2 linked regions of the Homo sapiens genome follow. The protein of the gene in region 2 purifies or fractionates together with the protein of the main gene of each other region. This does not show direct contact. Each region holds a gene or a part of one and is shown on either strand. Other genes may lie near its edges.

Region 1 (3,834 bases), on a different chromosome or scaffold from region 2:
CTGCACAATAATTTTAAGTTGGTTACAGGATTCTCTTAACACCAAGTTTTTTTTTAAATAACAAGTTCTATAAATCTTTTTATTGCTTCGGTATCATGAAAGACAAAAAAAAATCAAAACATTTATTTTTTCCTCTTGAGACAGGGTCTGGTTCTGTCACCCAGGCTGGAGTGCAGTGGCTCAATCATCACTCACCATAACCTCAAACTCCTGGGATTAAACAATTTTTCTGCCTCAGCCTCCTGAGTAGCTGGGACTAAAGGTGCACACCACCCACCCAGCTACTTTTCTTCATTTTTTTAATAGAAATGGGTCTCACCATGTTGCCCAGCCTGGTCTTGAACTGCTGGCCTCAAGCGACCTTCTTTCTTCAGCCTTCCAAAGTGCTGGGATTACGAGCATAAGCCACCAAGCCCAGCCAAAACTTAATACCACATTATACCTTCAAAATGTTAAAACAACTGGCTAAAGAGACTTGTTGGGGTGAGATAATGTTGAACCATTAGTCTTATTTACTTTTACTTTATTATTATTATTTACCTATCTAAGAAACAAATTATAGTAGATGCTATAAAATCAATGCAAATCAGGATTTCAGTTTACCTATTTGCATCAGAGTCTCTTCCATACTGTTGGTGGCTGTGACCATTGCTACTGATGCTCCCAGTGGATCGCTGTCAGGGAACTGAACTGGTTCTGGTACAATGCGCCGGTCATTTAAACCAAGCGGTCCAGCAAGTAATTCAAATTCTTCTTCACCAGTTAGCTTTTCATCTTCATCAACATCCAACATGTCCCAGTCTTCTGGAATTTAAATAAATAAATGTATAGTATGTGAATTTAAATATTACATAAATCTGCTGGCAATGGTTGTTCTGAAAATACATCTAAAATGCAGATGAGCAGCCAGATGCGATGGCTCACGCCTGTAATCCCAACACTCTGGGAGGCCGAGGCGACTGGATCACATGAGGTCAGGAATTTGAGACCAGCCTGGCCAACATGATGAAACCCCATCCCCACCAAAAAATACAAAAATTAGCCAGGCATGGTGGTGTGTGCCTGTAATCCCAGCTACTCAGGAGGCTGAGACCGGAGAATTGCTTGAACCTGGGAGGCCGTGGCTGCAGTAAGCTGAGATCACGCCACAGCACTACAGCCTGGACAACAGAGTGAGACTCCATCTCAAAGAAATAAAAACAATAAATAAATAAATAAATACATACATACATAAAATGCAGATGGACTGAAAGTCCAGTGACCACATAATGAACTATGGCACCATCTCCTGAAAACTTAACCAAACTGCACTCCTGAAGCATAAGTGAGACTCTCAGGGAAAGGGAGTCAATGTAGTTAAATAAGTTGACAGCAATAGCAAATGCTACAGCTGGTAATAGAGGTTTAAACTAATTAAAAATATTGTCATGGGTCCAACAAAGAGTTCTTAGCTGTCTGTAATCATTAGGGAATGAGTTATTTCAAGAAAATGAGTGCTCCAGAAAAATCAATGCTCATCTCTATTTATTTTTTACTTTCCACAATTAGGGTGGAAATTCAAAATATACCACATCCTTTCCCTACTTTGAAAAAAAAATACACCTAATAGAAATTAATATTCTGTGGTAAAGTTGGTCTTTGAAACCACGTTCTTTTCCTTTGACTTTTAAACCAGCGTTGTTGCTATTAAATTCCCTTGAGTTTTTAAGGGAAAATTTAAGTTAACATGTACACAAATACAAACACACACACACACGAAGGTGAATTTTAGTAACAGATGTTAAGCAGAGAGGATATATAAAAAAACATGTAAAATAAAGAAGCTCTCAAAACAAACTACCTTCATACACACTGTCTTGCTTGCCAATTAGATCTGGAGCTTGTCCCTTGTACCTGCACCAAACATGAAGAACATTGCATTTTTATATAAAACAGTTAGTACCCCAAGATGCAAATTAAGTCATTAGAACATTTTAAGAGGTCATTAATAAAGCAGCACAAAATAAAAAAGTATGTTTCATGTTATAGGCTAACATAATAAAAACTGCTGGTATGTAGGTACACACATGCTTACAAAATCAATGATTATTTTACCAAACTACTGGGGAGATTTCTGGGTTACCTAAAACAACTCTTTTAACCAAATTCTATTCCATAAAGCCTTAAAGATTTTAATAGTTGACAATTAAGGGCAACAAACCTACTCTCTAGGGATTAAGGATGTAAAGAGATAATATTTTTATGGAACTCGTTTAATCAAAAGTCTGTTTTTTTCATCAGGAAAAAGATCTTAATTAAAATGCCAGAAATATGGTAGAAAATACAAATGAAAAGAATTGAGTAGAAGCCTCCTGAGGGTTAAGGCAAGGGTCCTGACCATTACTTGCCAACAAGTCAGAGGTTAACACAGTCAAACTCCAGGGAAGGATATGTTGCTATGCCATTATTCCTGGGAACATGAATTTCTGAAACCCCTCCATCCCTTCTGCCCAAAGTGTAAGAATCACGGGATTTCAGGGAAGGTTAAATGTAACTCCTCACGTGAAAAATCTACAGTTCCCAAGACTTAAGGTATGAGGTATCTTCAGGAGGTCTGGATATCTACACAATTTCAAGGTACCTTTCAGAACTTGTTGACTTAGATTTGGTCTTCATGGCTAAGTACTTCTCCCTGCAGGTGCCACATAACAGGTAGTACGGATTTCCACTCCCACATTCACCGCCAAACCAGCCATCCACATAGGAACCATTGCTGCGATAGCCCTGGCGGTTTGCACTGCGCCCACAGCCTGGATGGTTTCTCTTCATGTGCTGATTGAAGCTGACGACGCTGCATTCACACAGTTCACACACCACCACTTCTTCCCTGTCTTCAGACTCACAAACATGCTGCACAAAAGGATTTCATACCAAATGATTAGTCAATTTAACATAAAACCAAGAAGTACCAAGTAGATTATTTATATTAAATTACTTTATTACATATGCTAGAATATTTCCAACATGTTCATTAATGCTAAATAAAAAATTTCTTTCAAATCAGAATTCAGATAACACAATCGGAAGGTGTTCTTTGCCCTCTCTCACTCTAATAAGTTATATCAATAATACAAGTAACTGAGTATCCTACTGAGAAGAGTTAATGAACATGACAATCTGTCCTATCTCAAAATGAGGCTTTTTAAAAAAAAAACTCCACTAGTGAAAAGAACTAATTTTCATCTGGTCACAAAATGCATACCTACTTTATGAATTTTTGGGAAAAATCATTATGATTCACTTATTTATATAGCAGATTCTCTTTCCTGTAGGACTTACATCTATGAGCTTTTTGGTCTCCCTACTACAAAAATGTAATGCTAACCAATGTATATACAAATCCACCATGTACCTTGCCCCTAAATGGAGGTATTTACAAGATCTAGGTGAGCACTGGTTCCTAGAATAAGGCATTACATTGATTAAATGGAACCTATGAAGGAGAAGAACATGCATTCAGATAGCAATGTGAGCACAGCAGCCATGTTATATAACCTGTCAACGTCTACTGGAACCTGATGCTTGTTTTGTAATTTATCTTTGACATCAGAATCAAATATTACCACAGTATGACTCTATTCATCTTGTCTGGGGAGAGAAACAATAAAATCCCACAGAGAAAGCAAGAGAGACTTTTCCTTATTAGTTTGTAGGTATCAAAGTAACCTCATAACTTTAAATCCCCAAACCTCAGGATGAGATAAAAGACTTTTTAGAGTGTTTCAACTCTAGGCAAGGCTGCTGTTAGTAAGCTATATGAACAGGAGGGCAGGAAAATAAGTCAGAGCAGCCCCC
Region 2 (3,834 bases):
AAAAATAAATTTTTTGTTTTTATTATTATACCTTAAGTTTTAGGGTACATGTGCACAATGTGCAGGTTTGTTACATACGTATACATGTGCCATGCTGGTGTGCAGCACCCATTAACTCGTCATTTAGCATTAGGTATATCTCGTAATGCTATCCCTCCCCACTACCCCCACCCCACAACAGTCCCTGGAGTGTGATGTTCCCCTTCCTGTGTCCATCTGTTCTGATTGTTCAATTCCCACCTATGAGTGAGAACATGCGGTGTTTGGTTTTTTCTCCTTGTGATAGTTTGCTGAGAATGATGGTTTCCAGTTTAATCCATGTCCCTACAAAGGACATGAACTCTTCATTTTTTATGGCTGCATAATATTCCATGGTGTATATGTGCCACATTTTCTTAATCCAGTCTATCGTTGTTGGACATTTGGCTTGGTTCCAAGACTTTGCTATTGTGAATAGTGCCGCAATAAACATACGTGTGCATGTGTCTTTATAGCAGCATGATTTATAATCCTTTGGGTATATACCCAGTAATGGGATGGTTGGGTCAAATGGTACTTCCAGTTCTAGATTCCTGAGGAATCGCCACAGTGACTTCCACAATGGTTGAACTAGTTTACAGTCCCACCAACAGTGTAAAAGTGTTCCTATTTCTCCACATCCTCTCCAGCACCTGTTGTTTCCTGACTTTTTAATGATCGCCATTCTAACTGGTGTGAGATGGTATCCCATTGTGGTTTTGATTTGCATTTCTCTGATGGCCAGCGATGATGAGAATTTTTTCATGTATTTTTTGGCTGCATAAATGTCTTCTTTTGAGAAGTGTCTGTTCATATCCTTTGCCCACTTTTTGATGGGGTTGTTTGTTTTTTTCTTATAAACTTGTTTGAGTTCATTGTAGATTCTGGATATTAGCCCTTTGTCAGATGAGTAGGTTGTGAAAATTTTTTCCCATTTTCTTGGTTGCCTGTTCACTCTGATGGTAGTTTCTTTAGTCCATCTTGAATTGATTTTTGTATAAGGTGTAAGGAAGGGATCCAGTTTCAGCTTTCTACATATGGCTAGCCAGTTTTCCCAGCACCATTTATTAAATAGGGAATCCTTTCCCCATTTCTTGTTTTTGTCAGGTTTGTCAAAGATCAGATGGTTGTAGACATGCGGCATTATTTCTGAGGGCTCTGTCCTGTTCCATTGATCTATATCTCCCTTTTGGTACCAGTACCATGCTGTTTTGGTTACTGTAGCCTTGTAGTATAGTTTGAAGTCAGGTAGCGTGATGCCTCCAGCTTTGTTCTTTTGGCTTAGGATTGACTTGGTGATGCGGGCTCTTTTTTGGTTCCATATGAACTTTAAAATAGTTTTTTCCAATTCTGTGAAGAAAGTCATTGGTCACTTGATGCGGATGGCATTTAATCTATAAATTACCTTGGGCAGTATGGCCATTTTCACGATATTGATTCTTCCTACCCATGAGCATGGAATGTTCTTCCATTTCTTTGTATCCTCTTTTATTTCATTGAGCAGTGGTTTGTATTTCTCCTTGAAGAGGTCCTTCACATCCCTTGTAAGTTGGATTCCTAGGTATTTTATTCTCTTTGAAGCAATTGTGAATGGGAGTTCACTCATGATTTGGCTCTCTGTTTGTCTGTTGTTGGTGTATAAGACTGCTTGTGATTTTTGTACATTGATTTTGTATCCTGAGACTTTGCTGAAGTTGCTCATCAGCTTAAGGAGATTTTGGGCTGAGACAATGGGGTTTTCTAGATATACAATCATGTCGTCTGCAAACAGGGACAATTTGACTTCCTCTTTTCCTAATCGAATACCCTTTATTTCCTTCTCCTGCCTAATTGCCCTGGCCAGAATATCCAACACTCTGTTGAATAGGAGTGGTGAGAGAGGGCATCCCTATCTTGTGCCAGTTTTCAAAGGGAATGCTTCCAGTTTTTGCCCATTCAGTATGATATTGGCTGTGGGTTTGTCATAGGTAGCTCTTATTATTTTCAGATACATCCCATCGATACCTAATTTATTGAGAGTTTTTAGCATGAAGTGTTGTTGAATTCTGTCAAAGGCCTTTTCTGCATCTATTGAGATAATCATGTGGTTTTTGTCATTGGTTCTGTTTATATGCTGGATTACATTTATTGATTTGTGTATGTTGAACCAGCCTTGCATCCCAGGGATGAAGCCCACTTGATCATGGCAGATAAGCTTTTTGATGAGCTGCTGGATTCAGTTTGCCAGTATTTTATTGAGGATTTTTGCATCAATGTTCATCAAGGATATTGGTCTAAAATTCTTTTTTGTTGTGTCTCTGCCAGGCTTTGGTATCAGGATGATGCTGGCCTCATAAAATGAGTTAGGGAAGATTCCTTCTTTTTCTATTGATTGGAATAGTTTCAGAAGGAATGGTACCAGCTCCTCTTTGTACCTCTGGTAGAATTCGGCTGTGAATCCATCTGGTCCTGGACTCTTTTTGGTTGGTAAGCTATTGATTATTGCCACAATTTCAGAGCCTGTTATTGGTCTATTCAGAGATTCAGCTTCTTCCTGGTTTAGTCTTGGGAGGGTGTATGTGTTGAGGAATTTATCCGTTTCTTCTAGATTTTCTAGTTTATTTGTGTAGAGGTGTTTATAGTATTCTCTGATGGTAGTTTGTATTTCTGTGGGATCGGTGGTGATATCCCCTTTATCATTTTTACTGCATCTATTTGATTCTTCTCTTTTCTTCTTTATTAGTCTTGCTAGCAGTTTATCAATTTTGTTGATCCTTTCAAAAAACCAGCTCCTGGATTCATTAATTTTTTGAAGGGTTTTTTGTGACTTAATTTCCTTCAGTTCTGCTCTGATTTTAGTTATTTCTTGCCTTCTTCTAGCTTTTGAATGTGTTTGCTCTTGCTTTTCTAGTTCTTTTAATTGTGATGTTAGGGTGTCAATTTTGGATCTTTCCTGCTTTCTCTTGTGGGCATTTAGTGCTATAAATTTCCCTCTACACACTGCTTTAAATGTGTTCCAGAGATTCTGGTATGTTGTGTCTTTGTTCCCATTGGTTTCAAAGAACATCTTTATTTCTGCTTTCGTTTCGTTATGTACCCAGTAGTCATTCAGGAGCAGGTTGTTCAGTTTCCATGTAGTTGAGTGGTTTTGAGTGAGTTTTTTAGTCCTGAGTTCTAGTTTCATTGCACTGTGGTCTGAGAGACAGTTTGTTATAATTTCTGTTCTTTTACATTTGCTGAGGAGTGCTTTACTTCCAACTATGTGATCAATTTTGCAATAGGTGTGGTGTGGTGCTGAAAAAAATGTATATTCCGTTGATTTGGGGTGGAGAGTTCTGTAGATGTCTATTAGGTCTGCTTGGTGCAGAGCTGAGTTCAATTCCTGGGTATCCTTGTTAACCTTCTGTCTCGTTGATCTGTCTAATGTTGACAGTGGGGTGTTAAAGTCTCCCATTATTATTGCGTGGGAGTCTAAGTCTCTTTGTAGGTCACTAAGGACTTGCTTTATGAATCTGGGTGCTCCTGCATTGGGTGCATATATATTTAGGATAGTTAGGTCTTCTTGTTGAATTGATCCCTTTACCATTATTTAATGGCCTTCTTTGTCTCTTTAGATCTTTGCTGGTTTAAAGTCTGTTTTATCAGAGACTAGGATTGCAACCCCTGCCTTTTTTTGTTTTCGATTTGCTTGGTAGATCTTCCTCCATCCCTTTATTTTGAGCCTATGTGTGTCTCTGCACATGAGATGGGTTTCCTGAATACAGCACACTGTTGGGTCTTGACTCTTTATCCAATTTGCCAGTCTGTGTATTTTAATTGGAGCATTTAGCCCATTTA

The links.
Region 1: the proteins of FMO5 (region 2) and HERC1 purify together in Homo sapiens (affinity purification with mass spectrometry; 2 studies listed by BioGRID and IntAct, with this or other methods). This does not show direct contact.

Annotation. Positions count from the first base shown.
Region 1 is NC_000015.10:63,659,133-63,662,966, forward strand, and holds part of HERC1 (probable E3 ubiquitin-protein ligase HERC1), read right to left. Parts: intron 2,890-3,834; coding exon 2,621-2,889; intron 1,894-2,620; coding exon 1,841-1,893; intron 805-1,840; coding exon 604-804; intron 1-603. UniProt on the Homo sapiens protein: Involved in membrane trafficking via some guanine nucleotide exchange factor (GEF) activity and its ability to bind clathrin. Acts as a GEF for Arf and Rab, by exchanging bound GDP for free GTP.
Region 2 is NC_000001.11:147,190,672-147,194,505, forward strand, and holds part of FMO5 (flavin-containing monooxygenase 5), read right to left. Parts: intron 1-3,834. UniProt on the Homo sapiens protein: Acts as a Baeyer-Villiger monooxygenase on a broad range of substrates. Catalyzes the insertion of an oxygen atom into a carbon-carbon bond adjacent to a carbonyl, which converts ketones to esters.